Regions from separate parts of the Homo sapiens genome. Here region 1 is linked to region 2. Evidence: fine-mapped expression QTL. A gene starts in region 2. The other region holds a variant in brackets. All regions are shown on one strand. Distances are from middle to middle.

Region 1 (2,836 bases), 560 kb after region 2:
TATTGGCTCTTTCCTTGAAAAAAAGATAAATCTGTCAGATTGTCAGCTTCTTTTTTTTTAAGTTTCAGTATAATTTTTTTTCAATAATTGCATAGAAGAAACTATGTGGATTTTTTCCCCAACCCTCATCCCTTTCCCTTCCTTTGATGCCTGCAGGTCAGTGATCAAGTTAATGCTTCTTATGCATGTGGGATAGAGAGTGAGAGTGGGGCACTCAGGCCTGATCTTCAGCGACTGACATTTCATAGGCCTCTGAGTTTGAACCCCTTCATGTCAAATGGATTTCGTGCAGCTGAGTGAATTCTCTTTAGATCTGCCTTAGAGAGGCTGAACCTAAGTGAAGAGGCATGTAGTTTTGCAGAATATAAGTCGTGGTACCTCTCTGTTCACTACATGCTATTCTGTTAAAACTTGCACAGAGCTGAGGATCTGCTCTGACTGGATGTCACCTGAGGGAATAAAGTCATTTATCTAGATTACTTTTTTCCTCCCTTTCTCCTGACTTTTAATTCCATAGCTACAGGCAAGTCAGTAAGTTGTTGCTCACACATATTAAATATATTTAATGGGCAAAGAACTGCAAGTACCAACTACAACTGCGCTCCAGCCAGTTCTTTTTTTTTTTTTTTTTTTAAGAACTTGACAATTGATTCATATGTAATTCTATTCCCAAAAAGGAAAAATGTTTCTTTTGTTAGCTATTCACACTTTTTCTTAGTCCTTTGTAGTCTGACCTCTTACCTTTGATACATTTGAAACTTCTGTTCAGTGTTTTTCTGGGATAGAAGAAATCTTAAAAAAAAAAGAAAGAAAAGAAAAAAAAATCCGTGGTTGGAGTGGGAGTCCAATTGCACATCTCCCCACAGCTGCACTGAGCATTTGAAAGTTATTCCTGGAGGGCAGGGAGTTCCCTCTTGGGAAACAGACTCCTGCTCTGAAACATATTTTAAAAGTTAGGTGTGTTTCTTACAATAAAAATTCATCTTCAGGAACTAAAGATGTTTTTAACGATTGTTTTCTAGATAACTTCATATCTCCTGTGGGCCTACGAGAATAAAGTACATTTAACGAGTTAGTATAAATATGAATAGAAAATGAAAACCAGTCGAGATAGCTAATAATAACGACCTGAACGAAGCACCTGAAACAAAGTTGCGCCATCTTTTCTTAGACTCATGACACATTCGCAGTCACAGGAGACCCAGATTCATCTGGAGATGATTTCAGGAATCAGCAGTACTCTTCATTTTTTTAGTTTTAGCACAACTTTGTTACTACAAAGAAGAAACTATATGACGGATACTGAGGCTAAGAAAAGCTACATGGTTGGTTATGTAGAGTTAATAAGCTATTTTTTAGTTGTTGAATTAACCTCAACTTGGTATCTTCTACTTTGCTGTGACTT[T/C]AGTAGCCTTTTACACCTTCAACAGGTGAATTGGTTGTCATTTGAACTCTGATGAATGGCCCTGTCCAGTCTCACAGCGATGCCTCACAGGCATCAGCACAGGGCACGCCTGGCCCAAGTGCCTATGATGGCCAGCGGGCTTGGGTCTTTTGGAACCCAGTGTACATAGTTCTGGAAAACCCCATTCACTTCCTCCAAATGATGTGATCTGCTTTGTTTTGTGTGAGAATGCTGGTCAAGGAGCAGGTAACACATTCAGTGACCTAGCAGAGCATTGATGAAGTGTGAAACCGAACACTGCCTTCTCATGAAGCAAGTGCAGAGTTGTTAGAAGGTACCATTAACCCATCTTCATTTCTTCTGATGTATTTAGATGGATCCTGAATACCGTGTGAGAAAATTCTTGGCCCTCTTAAGAGAAGAAGGAGCGTAAGTACATACAACATTTAATGACCATCAACCAAACTTACCACCCTGTTAAATCCCTGTGCCTATTCTAAGAGTTGCTTTCCTAGATAAGTTTGTTTCCATTTATTTGAATTCTTCGCTGTGTTGTAGGTCCGAGAGACCAAGCAAGGAAGTTGGTTGTACTGTTGGTTTGCTCTCCCTGTCCTGCTTCGCAAAACTTCCTTGTCACAATGCAGGAAAAACTTAATGGTACATATTTATTGGAACCTGCTTTTACATGCATGGAGCTGTGACCATTTTCTTTTGTGAAGTGCTCATCTAATAGCAAATGCATAGTGGGAAATGTAGGATAACCATTAAGAAGCTTTTAGTGATTTTTTTTTTTTTTTTTTTGATGAATAGTTTTTTACGGACCCTCATCTGTTTTTTTGTGTTTTGGTATTTCTTTTGCAGTAGCCCCCTTGATTTTGATTGAAAATGAACTATTTGAAACACACAGTGACCAAGGGAAGTGACCAAGGTGAAGATGGCCTAGGATCTTCACTGTCTTACTCAAGATACTGGACTAAGTGGAACGTTCTCTACCTTCAACATGTGCTCGCTCTGCATGATTAGTGCAATAAAACTCCCTTCCTTATGCATACTGAGATAGCTTAGTGTCTCGTGGAAGGTGTCAATTTGGTTTAGAATGCTGCGCTTACCTTCCCATGCAGGCTAAAGTGATTCCTTCTTGCTCAGTCCCTCTGGGTGGGAACCATCCAGTACTTGTGGACACTACACGTTTCAACCTCTCTACTAGCACCATCACCCTTGAAAACTCTCAGTCAGTGTCATGAATGTTGCATGACAACAGTTGGCCGATTAGAAGGCAGACTTTCTACATGCAAATCTGGCTTAGTAAATCGAGGTGTGGGCCAGAGATCCTCTGACAGCTGTCCTGAGCTAACACTAAAAGTCACTGGGTATTTGGTTAAAGGTCTCCCACAAGACTGGTATTCTCTTTGCCTGAAGAAACAAGGCATT
Region 2 (2,976 bases):
TCATGTCACCCCTTCTCCCCTAAAGCAATCAGTAAGCAATAGTTAAGTAGCACGTTTCTCTATAAATCCACATTGGGATTCCAACATTGGAAAACGAGGATTTTTAAGTAAGACACGGGAGTAGCGCTGTTTATCGTATGGAAAACAAACTATTTGCTAAGAATCAAAAGACCGTCAGCCGGAAAACAGGCCCCCAAAAAGGCAGTTAAGATTCCAACTCACTTAAAAGCAAATAAATCCCTCTTCCTCTTTAGTTTAAAAAAAAAAAAAGTCCGCCTGAGGGAGACTACATCTGAAAACGTAAGTGACCTGAATTTACAGGCAACAAAAATAATAAATGAAACAATCAGAGTTGTGATACAAACCGTGCAACGCGCCAAGATGTGTGTTTCGAGCAGAGAAAGGCCTTTTGCAGTCAAGAGAAGTTCAAGGCGAGAGCCAGAGTTTGTTTGGGGGGTTCTTTTACGGGAATAAATCATGTTCTTCAGGCCGCCTTTTTAAATAGAACGCCAAAGGAAAAGCTGGCGAACGAGGCGGCAGCTCCTGGGGAAGGGCCCCCGCACACCCCCGCCCTTGGGGCGACTCCCAGCCCGGACCCGCAGCAGGGAAGCCCGGAGAGGCCATTTAAAGTTCCGGGGGATTTTTCTACCCTGCCCTGCCTTTCTAGTTACAACTAACAAAGAGAGAGAGAAATGGGAGCCACAGGGAGAGCGAGGAGAAGGAGAAAGGGCAGCAGGAGGAGGAGGAGAGGAGCAGCAGCAGCACCTACCACGTGATGGAGGAGCGTAGCCCGGGCGGATTCAGCCCCACAAAATGGGCGCAGTTTGCAAACAGCCCCCCGGCCTGGGCGCCGAGGGCCAGCGGCGGGCGGGGGCGCGCGACGGCGGCTCCGGCCCGGGCCCGCCGCTCTCCTCCCCCCGACGCCCGGAGCCGCCCTGACTTTCCGGGCGGGGGGGCGAGGCAGAGGGGGAGGGGAAGGCGGCGGCGGGGAGCGGCTGCTTTTTCTTCTCTTTCGGGCCCTTTCCCGGCCTTGCTCCGCACCGACGGGGCCCGAGCACGGCTGGAGACCGCAGCCCGGCCGGGAGGGCGGGCGGGCGGGGGCAGAGAGTGAAACCGCCCCCCCGCCCCGCACAAACAAGCACCGCCGTCTGCAGCCCGAACCCGCACCCAGGCCGCCACCCCCGGCCGCCTCTTTCCAGCCGGGGAGCGCGCTTCAGCCGCCCCCCGCGCCGCCGCGGCGAGACGAGTCGGCTTCGCTACGGTGCTCGGTTCTCCCGCCGGCTCGGCGAGCGGTGGCGGCGGTGGCGGCGGCACTGGGAAAATGGCGGCCGAGCTCCTTTTCCCTCCCCCCCTTTAATCTGAAGCGGAGGGAGAATGGAGCGAGCGAGCAAGCGGGCGAGCGCCGGGGACACGGGGAGGAGGGACAGCAGCGCCTCCGCCGGCTGCGGCTGCGGCGGCGAAGGGCCGCTCCACCCCGGCGCGCCGCCAGGGGGCGCCCGCCGCGCCGCCCCCGCGGGCCGCCAGGAGGCGCGGCCGCCGCCGCCTCAGTCATGGCTCCTCGCCGTGGCCGATGTTTTTGTACCTCCATCTGCGGAGGCCGCGGCGCCCGGCCCCAGCTGCCCCGGACGTGCGGCGACGGCACGCAGCACTGCGGCAGGGGGAAGCCAGCCCTCGCTGCGGCCGAGGTGAGTCTAACCTGAGGCACTGACGCCGTCACATGCCCTCCGTGCTGGGGCCGGCGGTGCGGCTCGCCAGTTGAGGGGCAGGGCGGGCCGGCGCCGCGGAGCGAGAGGACGTGAGCGAGGAACTGTTTGCACTGTGTAGTAAAGAGGGTAAGGCCGTCGGCACCACACTATTCCAAGGCTAACCCTGCAGAAAGCTCCCTGACCAGTGAAGCGGCTTCCGCCGCCCGCCCTTTGTCCCTAGCAGCCAGCCTCCGTATACTGCAGCACGGCTGGGCACTAGCCCCAGCACCGCGCTCCGCAGCCACCAGAGTTGGGCGGGGTGGGGAGGGTGCACGTAGTCACTGCGCAGGCCCCAGCCAGGGCCCGCGCCGGGCCAGCCCGGGAAGGGACAGCCGGGAGCCAGAGGGGAAGTGATGGCCCCGCCGGCGCCGGGCCCGCTGGGAACTGTAGTTTTCGTGAAGAAACACGCGTCTTGTTTTGGGTGTCATGGCTTGGCAGATCCGCCAAAACAGGCAAATGGCATTACACAATGAGTATTTATGCTTCCTGCCGCCACCAAAAGGAAGTTCACTGCCATGCTAAAAGTTTAACAAAGAACTCCATAAAGAAACACAAGTCTCACAACAAAAAGCCAACTTCCCACCTCGTTACCAGAGTTGGTTTAAAGTGGTGGCACCTTATCATTTCTCATGACCAGTTTATCAGTACAGAACTTTATATTGTCCCCAAAATAGGACCTTTAAAATAATGGAACCTTTCCTAGACTTAAAGAATTCATAAACATAATGTAATACAAAGTGTCACACAAAGTGTAATTCTACCACCCTTTAAAGTTGCCAAAAGATGAGTGGAGTATCTTGAGATTTAAAAGACTAATCTAGGATTCATCAAAACTGGCTTAAATGACTGAAGAAAAAATCGTTCAAATCATTAAATCATCAAATTCGGCAGATAAGAAGGGTATGTATGCTCTACTACCAAAAAGGAAGACGCAAAATGCTTCACACTTTTTTGTGGCTTACCAGAACCAATATCCGGCATTATACGTCACTTCTGCTTATCAAAAAACACCCTCACAGTCGTTACAGAACGGTTTTAGTCTTCCCACAAAGTTACACTAACTCACCTGCCCCTGCAACATCTGCACCTAGGTTTCTGCGAATTTCCATTTGTACTCCTAAAATCACACTCTCAAGCATAGTCATAGTTCTCAAATACCAAAGGCAGGCAGTTTGGAGTCATAGGGTCAAATTACACAAAGAATAAACTAATATTTGTATACACATCCAAA

The links.
Region 1: its variant is fine-mapped to the expression of KANSL1-AS1 in whole blood (INTERVAL, PIP 0.98).

What each region holds. Positions count from the first base shown.
Region 1 is chr17:46,753,536-46,756,371 of GRCh38, forward strand. It overlaps NSF (N-ethylmaleimide sensitive factor, vesicle fusing ATPase), which reads left to right. Exons shown (of 21, transcript NM_006178.4): 20 at 1,779-1,834; 21 at 2,267-2,836. The coding sequence ends at 2,288. It also overlaps a transcript of LRRC37A2 not described here. Among named protein-coding and RNA genes, the nearest start is that of WNT3, 64 kb to the right of the region's middle. The variant T/C (reference allele first, on the strand shown) is at 1,406.
Region 2 is chr17:46,192,054-46,195,029 of GRCh38, forward strand. KANSL1-AS1 (KANSL1 antisense RNA 1) reads left to right here and starts at 1,520. Exons shown (of 2, transcript NR_034172.1): 1 at 1,520-1,685. KANSL1 (KAT8 regulatory NSL complex subunit 1) reads right to left here and starts at 1,376. Exons shown (of 15, transcript NM_015443.4): 1 at 770-1,376.